4 linked regions of the Homo sapiens genome follow. The protein of the gene in region 1 purifies or fractionates together with the protein of each later gene. This does not show direct contact. Each region holds a gene or a part of one and is shown in the gene's direction. Other genes may lie near its edges.

What was found. Proteins that work in one complex are often made in the same cells at the same time.
Region 2: the proteins of FKBP6 (region 1) and ACOX3 purify together in Homo sapiens (affinity purification with mass spectrometry; 3 studies listed by BioGRID and IntAct, with this or other methods). This does not show direct contact.
Region 3: the proteins of FKBP6 (region 1) and PPIL2 purify together in Homo sapiens (affinity purification with mass spectrometry; 3 studies listed by BioGRID and IntAct, with this or other methods). This does not show direct contact.
Region 4: the proteins of FKBP6 (region 1) and CCDC88A purify together in Homo sapiens (affinity purification with mass spectrometry; 3 studies listed by BioGRID and IntAct, with this or other methods). This does not show direct contact.

What each region holds. Positions count from the first base shown.
Region 1 is NC_000007.14:73,352,161-73,355,642, forward strand, and holds part of FKBP6 (inactive peptidyl-prolyl cis-trans isomerase FKBP6), read left to right. Parts: intron 1-3,482. UniProt on the Homo sapiens protein: Has an essential role in spermatogenesis. It is required to repress transposable elements and prevent their mobilization, which is essential for the germline integrity.
Region 2 is NC_000004.12:8,392,224-8,395,723, reverse strand, and holds part of ACOX3 (peroxisomal acyl-coenzyme A oxidase 3), read left to right. Parts: intron 1-981; coding exon 982-1,104; intron 1,105-3,270; coding exon 3,271-3,391; intron 3,392-3,500. UniProt on the Homo sapiens protein: Oxidizes the CoA-esters of 2-methyl-branched fatty acids.
Region 3 is NC_000022.11:21,669,012-21,672,511, forward strand, and holds part of PPIL2 (RING-type E3 ubiquitin-protein ligase PPIL2), read left to right. Parts: intron 1-901; coding exon 902-951; intron 952-1,287; exon of another isoform or gene 1,288-1,365; intron 1,366-1,554; coding exon 1,555-1,600; intron 1,601-1,985; coding exon 1,986-2,048; intron 2,049-3,318; coding exon 3,319-3,370; intron 3,371-3,500. UniProt on the Homo sapiens protein: Has a ubiquitin-protein ligase activity acting as an E3 ubiquitin protein ligase or as an ubiquitin-ubiquitin ligase promoting elongation of ubiquitin chains on substrates.
Region 4 is NC_000002.12:55,287,342-55,290,856, reverse strand, and holds the end of CCDC88A (girdin), read left to right. Parts: 3' UTR 1-3,015; downstream 3,016-3,515. UniProt on the Homo sapiens protein: Bifunctional modulator of guanine nucleotide-binding proteins (G proteins). Acts as a non-receptor guanine nucleotide exchange factor which binds to and activates guanine nucleotide-binding protein G(i) alpha subunits.

The sequences.
Region 1 (3,482 bases):
ATTATATTTCCTAGGCTGATCTCGATCTCCTGGCCTCAAGCGATCCTCCTGCCTCGGCCTCCCAGAGTGCTGGGATTATAGGCATGAGCCACCGCGCCCAGCCATGGAGCAGTCACATCTTTAAGATCACTGTGGAGTTGTTTATGCTTCATGAAGACCGTCAGATATCGGCTTAGTCTGTTTTTAATTTCTTGCGTTCATTAGGTGCATAAGCCCTGCCTCCAAGCATACATAATCCCAAACACCAACCTGGATAATTAAGTGTACAGGTAGTGAGTGAAAGAAGTGAGCCTAAGCAATAAGGAATTGACATCAAGCCAGTGCCTTGTACCTTCTAGGGAGAGCATGAGTCCCCGCCAGCTTTGCTGGCTGACCCCCATTCTGCAGGTGCTGATCCTGTTCTCAAGACCTTTGGTTGTAGCTGTTATTGACTGTCATACTTTTGATGCTCCCCTACGCTCCCAAGCAGCCACCGACCCAGGGTGAAGCTGAGATGAACTGGGGTGAGCCTCAGAGGTTCAAGAATCCAGAGAAGGGTTTTCAAATCTAATAGATAAGTGAAGAGCTATGAGCAAAAGTTCTCTCTAGCTCAGAGGTCACTCAGACATTCACAAGGTGAGAAGGATGTGGTCTGCCGTCACTGTGAGGGCACCCACAGCAGTCATTGTCAGCATCAGTCCAAACAGAAAAGGCAGCAAGAGGCAGACAGAGGGGCATCTCCAGGATGTTTGGCATCCTGAGGTCATACAGCTTCATTTTTTTGGTGAGCTGAATATCATGGCCATGAATGCGAGCAAATCTGCACTAACTTCCTTTTGCTTCTCCAAGAAATGGCCTAGAGAGGCTGCCTGCATTTCTTGGCTAGTGGCCCCTTCCTCTTCTTCAAAGACAGCGGCATGATATCTTCCAATATTTCTCCCTCTCTCCCTTTCTGTCTCTCCCTCTCTCTCACCCTCTCTGTGAATCTCTCATTCAGCCCCTCTCTCCCCTCTGCTTCTGTCATTTTGTCTCCTCCTTTTTCTGACCCTCCTGCCTCCCTTTTACGAGGATCTGATTACATTGGGCTGACCAAGATAATCGCCCAGCTCAAGATCCTTCATTTAACCACAGAATCCCTTCTGCCATGTATGGTAATGTATTCGTGGGTTCCGGGAATTGGAACAAGGATATCTTGGGGGGCATTTTCCCATCTCTCATACTCTGTTACAGATCAGCATCTGTGAGGGACTACACATCTTGCCAATGCAGAGATAACTCAGCACTCTGCATCCTCAGCATTCTCGGCTTAATCCTTTCCGTCCCAGATGAGATCATCCTGACAGCCGTCTTTCAGAACATTTCCTTTCTCGTGCTCCCTTCTGGTGGCTGGGGCCTGATGGACACAGCTCACCTCATCTTTCTGCTGTTTGTTTACTGCACTTGAGGGTTGCTGTACTGTTTACATTGTTAACAAATGCTAGGTTTGCTACAACCCCACATCAAGCAAGTCCGTTGGTGCCATTTTTCCAACAGCATGTGCTGAATTTATTTCTCTGATTTACATTTTGGTAATTATCACAGTATTTCTTTTTTTCTTCTTTTTTTTTTTTTTGAGGCAAAGTCTCGCTCTATTGCCCAGCCTGGAGCACAGTGGCACGACCTCAGCTCACTGCAACCTCTGCTTCCCAGGTTCAAGCAATTCTTCTGCCTCAGCCTCCCCAGTAGCTGGGATTACAGGCGTGCGCCACCACGCCCGGCTTATTTTTGTTATTTTTAGTAGAGACGAGGTTTTACCATGTAGGCCAGGCTGGTCTCAGACTCCTGGCCTAAAGTGATCCTCCTGCCTTGGCCTCCCTAAACCTTGTTTTTAAACAAGCGTGGCAGTTTGGATGGCACTTTGACCCTTCTTTGACCATGTATCACAGCACAGTGGCAGCTGGTGGTGGTGAGCTGCAGTTGTTGGAGGAAGTGCAGCAGAGCCATGCTGTGAGGCCTGGCCCACCCCCAAAACCGGGAGGTACCTGCAGGCGCTCTCATTCCATGTCAGCCTGGAAAGGGTGGGCTCCAGACCACTCAGCTCCATGCGCATTCTCATGGGACTAGGTGGCCAGTTGTGACAGTGGGGAAGTAATCGCACTCCCTGCAGAGGGACGTGGCCAAGGGAGGAGCAGAGAGCTGGGCTGGTGGAGCACGAGGGTGGCTGCAGGAAGTGCAGCAGTCAGCATGGAGTGGCCGCCAGAGAGCCAGGGCCACAGGTTGGGTGGGGAGAAGCAGGTCAGGGAGTCCCTGCAATGAGGGTTGGCTCTGAGAAGCCGCCTGGCAGGAGTGGAAGGGGCAGGTGGAGGACCCAGCAGGCCGGAGGACTGCCGCCTTGCGGGCTGGCCAGAGTGTCACAGCAGAGTCCCAAGGGGTGAGGACTCCTCAAAAAATTTTCCCCCTCAGTTGATATTTTTGGAGATATCCAGATTAGGTTCTTAAGATTGGCTGAGTAATGCATTTTGGGAAGGGGAACCAGTTGAATGGTTTCAGGAAGGTCTTTCATTCTCCACGTTTACTATGTACAGCCTTGGTTCATCTGCTGGGATTTTGAAGAGGCAGCCATAACTTTGATCAGTGTTTTTGAAGGGCTGAGTGACCCATGCAGGGTTCCAGGGTCTTCTCACCAGATGATGTTCATGGCTGAGTTTACTCTAGTTCCCCGTTGCAGGGTACAGGGAAGTGCTTGAGGCTGGGGCTGCGAGGCAGGGCTGGCACACGACACCCACCGCCACCGTGGGAACGGCACCTGCTGAGCCTTGATCCTCAGCTCTTTGTCCTCCGATTTCCGACAGAAACATCCTGGGCTCTACAGCCTCCAGCCCGTGGCTCCGCGATTACATCACTCCTCTGTCTTCTCTGTTACATTTCACACCCTTCTTTGATTACTGCTTATTATGTTGTGCGATTATGGTGGACACCACTGGCATTGCTGCTTGGGTTTCTAGTTCACAGTCCCTGTGCCTTTTCCGAGGCCTGGGGCCCACCCGCCGTGGAAGCAGCCTGGTTCGTAGGAATGGATTCAGCTGGAGTCGGCTGTGGACCTTTGTCTGTGTTCGCTGCCTCAGCCTGACTGCCATTGTCTTTGTCGATCTCCGGACTTATTTCTCCTTGAGCCACGGATACAGCTTTTTTCTGACTTTGCACCTCTGTGCGATACATGTATTGGGTTTTCAAAATGAAATGTGAGCTGAGCTTTCCTATGTTGGCGCATTCTCGTTTATGCTAAAGTGTTACTTTTTATTGGCTCCGATTTGAAAATTCAACTACCTGAACCTCGTGGGATCCCTTCGTCTGTAGGGAGCTTGAAGTTGATCTCCCCCCATCTGCATTCATGCCTGGAGAATATTGATTTTAGGGCTTATTCCTAAAGTCATTTCATGGGACACACCCTAGATCAAAACTTTCTTTTTTCACTTGATTATTATTAAACTTGTCATTATGGACATTTTCAAACGTCTCCAAAG
Region 2 (3,500 bases), on another chromosome or scaffold:
GGCAGCTCGGCGGTCAAGAGAGCGCACTGGGGCCACCATGCCTGGCCTTACCACCAAGGTCCACCCCCAGCTGGCTGTGTGCCCCCAGGCAAGGTCCTTAGCCTTTCTGTGCTCTTGCTTTATCATTTGTAAGTTAGAACTGATGATAAAACTTCTTCCTAGGATCAGTGTGAGGATTAACAAAGTTAGGGCATGGAGGCAGCTGGCGCCATGTCTGCTCAGCACTCTTGACACGTTAGACCATGGTGGTGATGGCGGTTTCCTCAGGATCCTCTCAGGCTTGTCCTGCCATGTACCCAGCCACCCACCCACCCATCCATGCATCCCCCCACCTGTCCACGCATCCCCCCACCTGTCCACGCATCCACCCACCCATCCATCTACCCATCTACGGATTCATCCATCCACCCACCCACACATCCACCTACCCACCACCCACCATCCATGCATCCATCCACCCACCCACCCACCCCCCCATCCAACAATAGGTGGACCCTATCCTGTTTCAGACAAAGTGAAAAAGACATGCACTCAGCCTTTCGAGGGGCTGCCAGCTCTGTGTGGGCCTCAGCTTTCCCATCTGTCCCAGGGTGACGGCCTCATCCTCACAGGCTCATGCTGTCAGCCAGTCAGTCCGTGTGCCGGGGAGTTGGCCCCTAGCAGTGCTGCCTTCTTAATTCACAGATAGACTGGCACTTTGTTCTGTAGTGACTTTGATGGGACAGCTGTGAATAGCGGCCATTTAGCGAATTGCGTTTGAGCTTGTCTGTCAAGGGCTATGGGTGAAAGCCGAACTGGCTGAGTTGAGAGCGTGTCAGGGTGAAGGCTTTCTGATGTGCCGGGAAGACATGTGAAGACCTTCAGCGCTAGTGGGTGTGTGGCCCTGACGGCCTCTCCCTGCACTGGCTTTCATGGTCCCTGGGATGGGCTGCCCTTCATGGGAACCACGATGTGTTCACGCAGGTGTCTTGTCTGTTCTAGCAATGGCGCTTGCTTCCATATCTGGCAGCTGTCTACGCCTTAGACCATTTCTCCAAGTCGCTCTTCCTGGACCTGGTGGAGCTCCAGCGAGGACTTGCATCGGGAGACCGCAGCGCCAGACAGGTGAGGTGGTGTCTGCTTCCTCAGCAGCATCGTTTAAATCTCACACGGTTGGAGCAGCATAGATTCAACCTTCATTTCAAAGCAAAATCAGTCCTTTGATTTGCGAGGACAGAGCATTCCTCCAGTTGTTCCCACCCACTCGGAGCTCTTGGCCTCTGCCGCGATTGAACGGGCTGGGCACGCGTCCACACCCCTGCCTCTCAAGGATGTGCTGACACGACTCCCGGTTCCAGTCTGTGAGTTCAGCTGTTGGTCTCCTTTTGAGAACATGACGGTTTTGCAAAATCCACGTTACCCGCCCCTCAGTGGATTTCATGGTTCTGAGCCTTTTGTAAACAGCTGCACAAAGGTCTGAATCCCACTGACTGGATTTGAGTTGACAGTCAGAGGATTTGTGCCAGAAACGAGCGTGCAAATCCCGAGATCAGCCTCGGCATAAAGAGACATCGGGAACGGATTTCTTTGTAGATGATTATGAACTGATTTTCCATTGTCCCTCCTGCTGCCTCCTGAGCAAGAGTGAAATGTGAATCAAAAGAAATAACCGTGTTTGAAAGCAGAGGAGAAACGCCACAGATTGCTGTTATGTACAACATCAGAAAAAGCCTGTATCTAATTAGCATATCTTGAAATATTATCGGTGTCCACATTCACGGCAGATGATGGCGAAGGGATGACCTGCAGGATTGATGGCAGAGCAAACCCCAGGCCTGGAGGCCTGAGGAGGGAGCGCTTCTGACCACTAAAGGGGTTAAGCCTGTGTTTTCCCTGGAGCGTGAGTCAGTGGAGCTTTTGCCAGCTGACACTTGCATTGTTCTCCTGTGAATAATGTTGTAAAGGGTGACCAGGCTGATTCTTTCTGAAACTCAGTGGTTTAACCCAGGCAGAGGAGGGCCTCAGCTCAGCCCCTTATGTGAAGTTGAAAACACTCATAAAATGGGTCACTGGACTTAGCATGCGTGTGTGTGTGTGTGTGTGTGTGCGTGTGTGTGTGTGTGTGTGTGCGTGTGTGTGTCTTCCTCTTAATTGTTTTTCCTTTTTAATTGTCTTTCTTTTTTAAAATTAAAAATTCTTCTTTTACTCTGAATCAGTCTCTTAAGTTTTTGTTTGTTTGTTTGTTTGTTTGTTTTTGAGACGGAGTCTCGCTCTGTTGCCCAGGCTGGAGTGCAGTGGTGCGATCTTGGCTCACTGCAATTTCTGCCTCCTGGGTTCAAGCAATTCTCTTGCCTCAGCCTCCCAGACTAGCTGGGACTACAGGTGCCCGCCACCACACCTGGCTAATTTTTTTTATTTTTCAGTAGAGACAGGGTGTCACCATGTTGCCCAGGCTGTTCTCAGACTCCTGAGCTCAACTGATCTGCCCGCCTCGGCCTCTCAAAGTGCTGGCATTATAGGCGTGAGCCACTGTGCCTGGCCCAGCCTCTTAAGTTTTCATCATTAGATATCAAGCAGAAGCAAAGGAGTCTTCTTTCTTTTTTTTTTCCCCTTAAAAAAAAGCCTGCAGCACCTGCTATTCCCAGGCGGTCTCCCATCCAAATACTAACCACGCCCGACCCTGCTTAGCTTCACGAGATCAGGCTCATTCAGGGTAGTTTGGCCATGGACAGCAAAGGAGTCTCAATAAAACATGTTAGGCCTGAGGGAGGCACGGTGAGCCCCCACACAGAGCAGACCATCAGTTACCGAGGCGCTTGCAGCCTTCTGGGAATGGACTGGTCCCGGCCCTTCCCTGTCCTGGGAGCGAGCACTGTCTGCGGTGCTGAGTCTGGTTCCCTGGCCTTTCTTCATGGTTTCGCTGCAAACAATTGCAACCTTCCATGGTGTGTCATTCACTTTGACGTTTGTGAACTTTATATAAAGTGGGCCATGACGCACATTCTTCTGCAGTTTGCTTCTGGGACCCGTGTTAGGGCCCTGAGAGCTATTTGCTGTGTAGAGCTGTGTTTTCATTGTTGTGAAATGGTATGAGCGTACCACAGTGTATCCATACTTGGATAAAGACCCTTTTTTATTTCTAATTACAATTAGGTTTCCTCTTCTGTCATTTTCGGGATGTCTTGTATTAGACTAGAGGTGATATGGTGGTTTGATGCTATTGCTGACTTATGACTTTTTGGTGTCTAAAGTCTCTTTTCACCTGTTCTTGTTGGATTCCCTCACCCAAAGGCAGAGCTTGGACGTGAGATCCACGCCCTGGCATCGGCCAGCAAGCCCCTGGCCTCGTGGACCACCCAGCAAGGAATTCAGGAATGCCGGGAGGCGTGTGGAGGACACGGCTATCTGGCCAGTAGGTTTTGGAGAAGCGCATGGTGGTTTCCTGTCCTTAGCCCTGCTGTTTGACTCTAGACCAGGGGTCGGCAGACTGCGGCCTGAGGACCAAATCCAGCCTGCCACCT
Region 3 (3,500 bases), on another chromosome or scaffold:
TCTATTTTTTTTTTTTTTTTAGTAGAGACTGGTTTCACCGTGTTAGCCAGAATGGTCTCCATCTCCTGACCTCGTGATCTGCCCGCCTTGGCCTCCCAAAGTGCTGGGATTATAGGCGTGAGCCACCTTGCCCGGCCGGTTTTTTTTGTTTTTTGTTTTGTTTGTTTTTGAGACAGAGTCTCCCCCGTCCCCCAGGCTGGAGTGTAGTGGTGCTGTCACAGCTCACTGCAGCCTCAACCTGCCTTCCTGCCTTAGTCTTTGGAGTAGCTGGGACCACAGGTGTGAGCTGTCACACCTGGCTAAGTTTTAAATTTTCTTGTAGAGACAGATTCTCGCTTTGTTGCCCCAGCTGTTCTCCAACGCCTGGACTCAAGCAATCTTCCTGCCTTGGCCTCCCAAACTGTTGGGATTATAGGTGTGAGCCACTGTGCCTGGTCTCCATGTCTGTTGTGTTTATCACTGTGTGGCTGACATATAGTAGGTGTTTTTTTGTTTGTTTGTTTTTTTGAGACAGAGTCTCACTCTGTCACCCAGGCTGGAGTACAGTGGTGTGATCTTGGCTGACTGCAACCTCCGCCTCCCGGGATCAAGCAATTCTCTGCTTCAGCCTCCCGAGTAGCTGGGATTACAGGCACCCACCACCATGCCCAGCTAATTTTTGTATTTTTAGTAGAGACGTGGTTTCACCATGTTGGCCAGGCTTGTCTTAAACTTCTGACCTCTAGTGATTCGCCTGCCTCGGGCTCCCAAAGTGTTGGGATTACAGGCGTTAGCCACCGTGCCCGCCCCATAGTAGGTATTTAGTAAGCATTTGCTGAGTAAGCAAAGATTACTCACTTCCAAAGACTTCGTCCTCTTTATAAAGGTGGTGGTGGTAGCATTATCTTCCTCTCTTCTTCAGGTACATTACCTGTGCTGAATACACTCACTTTTATGGTGGCAAGAAGCCAGGTAAGGCATGCAGTCTTTCTGTTCCCCGTTGGGGGAGTGGTATTAAGGAACTGTGTCTTCAGGATACAGTGAGCTGTAAAAATAGACAACAAGAACACGGAAACTATGGTAGACGAATGGGCTGAGGACACAGTTCATGAAAGAGAAATATACTCAAGATAGAAGAACCTGCTTCATCTTAGTGGTGATTTTTGTAAAATGTAATTTAAAATATTCCCCGATGCTGGGAGCTAAGTAAAAAATAAATAAGTAAATGAAATACAAAATTACATGTACATTTAAATGTTTTTTCTCTATCAAGTTTATAAGGAATAAAAAGAATGATAATATTTTCAGCTGTCAAAACTATCAAGACTACAATAACAAGAGCACTGTCATAATTTTAATGGAAGTAAAAAGTATGCACTTTTCCCAGTAAGTTCTTTTTTGATGTACCCCAAGTGTTTTGGTTTATCTGTTAAAAGGTTTTTAATCCACAGCAATTGCTGTACTTAAAAATTTGCATGAACTTTTTCATAAGCTGTAACTGAATTGCTAGCAGGTGCACATAGATGAAATACTTTACAGAGTAAGATTTCTGTTTTTTATTTCATTTTTAAACAGATCTCCCACAAACAAATTTTCGTCGTTTACCTTTTGACCACTGCAGGTAAGAGTTTTGCGAGTTTACCTTTCCCTTGTAATTGTTCTCTGATCCTGTCTGATAGTGAATCTGCCCCTTGTGGATGTGGGGTTATGCGTAAAAGTGTGCCTTGAAGATGTGGCCCTTCAGTTCATGTTGGGAGAAGATGCAGAGTCCTCGTCATGATGTTAGGAGCTTGCCTTGGTGTTGGATCCTGCTCTAGACCTTCACCAGGGGTGGCACAAACACTATTGTAGTTGGAGGAGAAGGTTGGTGAGAGAGGGAGGTGGCCAGGCTGCCCAGAGAGGGCTCCCTGGGACAGCATTTCAGGAGGTCACCATGCCAGTCTCAGCCAGCCCACATCCTGACCAGGGTGCGTGGCAACTCACCAGGAATGACTGTCCTTTTTCAGTCTCTCTCTGCAGCCCTTTGTCTACCCAGTCTGCACTCCCGATGGCATCGTCTTTGACTTACTGTGAGTTTTTCCTTGAATTTTGATCTAACAAATGTGAGATTCTCAACACCCATTAAGGAAGGGGACCCTTGGTACCCTTGGGTAGGGCTCTTGGGCACACAGAAGTAACAGCTAGGGCCTTGGGGACATGGCAGCAATGCTGCTGTGACCCTTGGGCAGGCAGCTCTAGTTGTCAGGTACTGCTGTCACTGCCTGGAATGGGGTAGACCACCCCCTACCCCTCCAAGTGCAGGCATGAGCCACTGCACCTGGCCTGAAAATGAATTTTTAGGAAATTTCAGCCTTATTTTAGAAAAAGAAAATTTTACCACAGTCCCACTATCCAAGATAACCACTGTAAATATGCTAATTTTTTGTGAACTTATTTGTAGTAACATGATTGAGATAACACTGTGAACACTGTGAAGTGTTGACAGGTAACACTCTGTGGATCTATTTATTCACTTGGTTGTGATGAGAGCTTTTTTCCCCGTGTGATTCAGAATTCTCTGAAAGTATAGTTTTTCTTTGTTCTTTTCTTTTTTTTTTATTTGAGACAGGGTCTCACTATGTTGCCCAGGCTGGTCTTGAACTCCTGCGCTGAAGCAGTCCTTCCACCTCAGCCTCCTGAGTAGCTGAGATTTCAGGCACACACCATCACCATGCCTGGCTTGAAAGTATAGTTTTTGATGCTAGCTTAGTATTTAATTATACAGATGTATCAACATTTATGACGGAGTGGTGGCTTATGTCTGTAGTCCCAGCACTTTGGGAGGCTGAGGCAGGAGGATCTCTTGAACCCAGGAGTTTGAGACCAGCCTGGGCAACATGGTGAGAACCTGTGTCTACAAAAAAGTGCAAAAATTAGCCAGCCATGGTGGTGTGCACCTGTAGTCCCAGCTACTTGGAAGCTGAGGTGGGAGGATCGCTTGAGCCCAGGGGTTGGAGGCTGCAGTGAGCCATGACTGAAACACTGCACTCCAGCCTGAGTGACAAGGCGAAACCTTGTCTCAAAGAAAAAAAACCCAAACCATTTACTTACTCATTTTCACCTGTAGTTTTTGTTGTTTATACATAACTACAGTAATAACTCTGAACATATTTTGAAACCTATGTATCCACAAATATCCCCCAACTTCCTGAGACAAGATGAGGAGCTCTTCCTCTCCTAAAGTGAAGCAAGACCCCTTCACAGGCCTCTAACCTGGAAGCAGCCCTGCAAGACCACAGTGTTGTTACCAGGTGGCGCCTAAGCACCCTGGTGATGCTTTCTGTTCTGTCTTCCCTTCAGGAACATTGTTCCATGGCTTAAGAAGTACGGGACCAACCCCAGCAATGGAGAGGTAGGTGGCTGTGCAGGAGTTTCAGTGATGCTAGTGAATGCTATCCTCTCACTTCTCCTTTTGTTCTGGTGGTTTTCATGAACACAGGAACATGGGAGAGAACCGTTCATGGGGCCCAGTGAGGAGGGAC
Region 4 (3,515 bases), on another chromosome or scaffold:
GAACAATCTGCTTTTTTCATCATTTGTTTTATGAATTTATCCATGTTTGCTTAATGCTTCTGCTAAGTGTTAGCCAAAATCTAGCCATTTATATTTAGTTGTGTAAACCTAAATTAAATGCTGTAGTATTTTGTGGAATGTACTATATAGCAAGATACAGAGAAAATTGTTTTGGCATGTCAGAGCCTTATTTGGTTAGCAGACTGCATGTGTTGATACTTTTTTTTTCTTAAAGCCAATTATTTTGATGCAAAAGAAATTCAGTTTATAAGATAAATCTGAAAAATCCATAATGAAATAGGAGTTATAAAAAATTTATAGTGATATTAATCTTTCCATATTTCCCATTAAGCAACACTAAGCATTCATAAGTTAACCCATGGTAAAGAGTGTTTTTCTGAAACTTTTTTTTAGTAAGATGGTTTTTCAGCAAATGGCATTCCCAAGATAAAGCTGTTGTGCTTTAACTCATTTCTTTTCTTTGGTATTGGGTTATGTATGCGTGTGCATTTTTTTAACTTGAGAGCTGACTGTTGCTTAAGAAGTTTTCTTATGGCAAAAATAATGTAAATAAGTTACTATGATCTGCATTTTGCCAGAAACTCATTTATAATTAAGGCTATCATTTATTAATGATTTTTTTCTCCTTTATGATATTACATTAAAGTTGATAACTGTTATTGGTACTTTTGAAATATTTGTATGCATTTGTTACCTTTAAACATTTGGAAGAAGCACAAAAAAATAGATTTAGTTAACCCAGGGAAACATCAATTTTTTTAGTAGTTCCAATTTTATATCACAGTTTTATTTTCTTATGAAATCAAAAAATGCATTGATACTCATTAATGCAAATTCATTATTTAACATCAATATCAGAGTAATCTTCAAGGTCTGAAATGAGAAACATACTGACTTTTTAAAATTTTAACAGTGTACTTCTTAGGCTTTCATTACCAGCTCTGAAGAACTTTTTGGAATAATTCCATATTCCATAGTGTGTGGTTTATGAGTTGTGGGTTTCATCACTAACCCAGTAACCATAAGAAAAGTCTCTCTCTCTCTCTCTCTCTCTCTCTCTTTCTCTCTCCCTCTTTCTCTCTCTCTTTCGTAGGCCAGTAGCAATGTTGTGTTCACAGTCTAATTTCCAAAAGACCATCAATAAAAAAGAGAGCATGTTTAAATTGAAATGGAACTTAGAGAACTTGAGCTTACTTACGTACTTCAATGCCACCGGTAACTTAGGTTTTACCACCAAATGCTGTTAACGTTAAATCATTTTGAAAATCTTGGATGAAAGGTGCTATGTAAATGGAAATACAAAGGATTCTTACTAACATACAAAAATAATGCACAACAGAAATATCTAAAACCTTTTCCGTAGACTTTGAAACATCTCTCTCTCTCATAACTCCCTGGATTCAAGTAGCACATTGGTAATAGGTATCAGAGCAGTCTAGAGACAATTGCATGTCAAAAAATGTACATTCATTTTTAGGTGGATAAAAGTAAACATAGAAATTATGTTATGGCTAAATACAGTTAGTGGGTAACTTAGATTTATATTAGCTAGCATCTAATTTGCACAACTAGAACACATCCCAGAACAATTACTGAAAAGCTGAAATTTAATGGGTGGTGATGTAGCCCAATGAGGGCGAATGACATTACAGCTTGACCTCTCCAGAACACTAATATCCTAAAATACAGAACATGCTGGGTTAAGTGCATTAGTGCTTCAAGCAGAAAATGCTGAAAACAACGTGTAAAGTACTGAATCTGAGTAGGCTGACCCTGAGAAGGGACAATTAAAGAGACAACCAAGGGAACACATTGAGACTACAAAAATATGAATAATCTCAATTATATTCATCACACTTTTTTCATACCATTTCAAGAAACGACTAGACAGTAGTAACCACATGAATATTTTACTTTCTCCAGTATACCTTGAGAAGCAAACTTTGTAGGAAGCCACTCTTCTCCCCTAAACAACTTCTGCCAAACAATAATAAAGCCAACTGGAAACGAATCGGAGCCATTTTCATTTTCCTAACCGGGGCCTGACATGCTTTAAATTATCTGGCTGTATTCTAAATCAACACCTAACCCCTCAAGGAAACTGAAGAATCAATATACAGGGTAATAGCTTTGGCTCAGAGCTCCAATAATGTGCTTCAGATCTGTCCATGTGGAAATGCTTTCATCCAAATTTTTAAATTGGTGGTTACCAAAGAGTTCACAAAACAGGTTTGTATGTAGCACCTTTCATGCAAGGCATGCAAAAAGCCTATTTTAAAATCACTGTGCATATTATAGAGTTGTAGCCACCTCACAATGAAGTACTACAGCCTGTGCTGTCTTAATGGTTTATGTCAGGAAATGAAAAAGATACTGTACCAAATCTGGAATTACAATGGGGAGTAATAATGTATACTAAATGACTTTTGTATTTTAAGTTACTTTTTGTGAGTGGTGAATTTTTGTGTTTTTCTTTTCAGCTACACTTAGTCCTGAGATGTATTTTTTCTTTAAGTCTTGAATGAATACAAAAGGAGCCCATTTTATAATATAAACCTTGATGTACATGTTGAGATATTTGGACAATGAAAATGCCTTAAAAGGAATGCATATGGATAAAGTTGCACTTATAACACCCTTCAACAAAATCTAATTTTAAATTGTCTTTTTCTTTTCTATTAAGGGTTTTCTTTTTCAGTGTCTACCATTGTACTTATAACTGTTATTAAATACCAAATCAAATAATATAAAAGCTGTAACATTTCCTTTAAAACTAATGCTAATAAGGGATTTAGAGTTGAATGGCAAAATGTTTATTACTTGGCAATACCTGATGTCAGTCACAGGCATCCAACTCATGACAAGAGATACCACTGTTTGTTTTTTAAAAAACATTTTTCATTTTGTTTCTCCTTCAAAAATTAAGTTGGACTAACATTCACGTATCAAACTAATATAAAAAGAAATAAAACCAAGAGGTGATTTTTGTAACAACTGGTTAGTAATCATTTAAAAATGATATCATTTTAGCCAAGTGTTATTTTATTTCTTTCCATTTTCCCTAGAGAACTATCGTCAGACATAACCCATGACCTTGTTTAGTTGATTCTGTCATATCATTTTGTGATAAGTATTAGGGGTTTGGAGAGAAAGAGCATCTGTCAATTTTATCAGTCCCAAAATAGGTTTAAATGTAATCTAATAGATTGCACAAATGAATCTCCCATTTTCACTTAGACTTTGGGAGACAAAGGAACTGGCCTCATCCTTGGGCTGGTCAGTTTTTCTGGGCCTGTTTTCACTATAAGGTGGGGAGGGCAATTAGACCAGATACCTAAGGTACTTAATTTCTGTGTATTCATTAGTACCTTCATTTCATATGCAAAGCAACCTAAAACGGCTACTTTGTGTTAGAGATAGAATACCGAGTATGTAAAAACTAAGAGGAACCTTAGAATAAAGTCATTACTTTTATTTTGCCTTTTAGTAACACA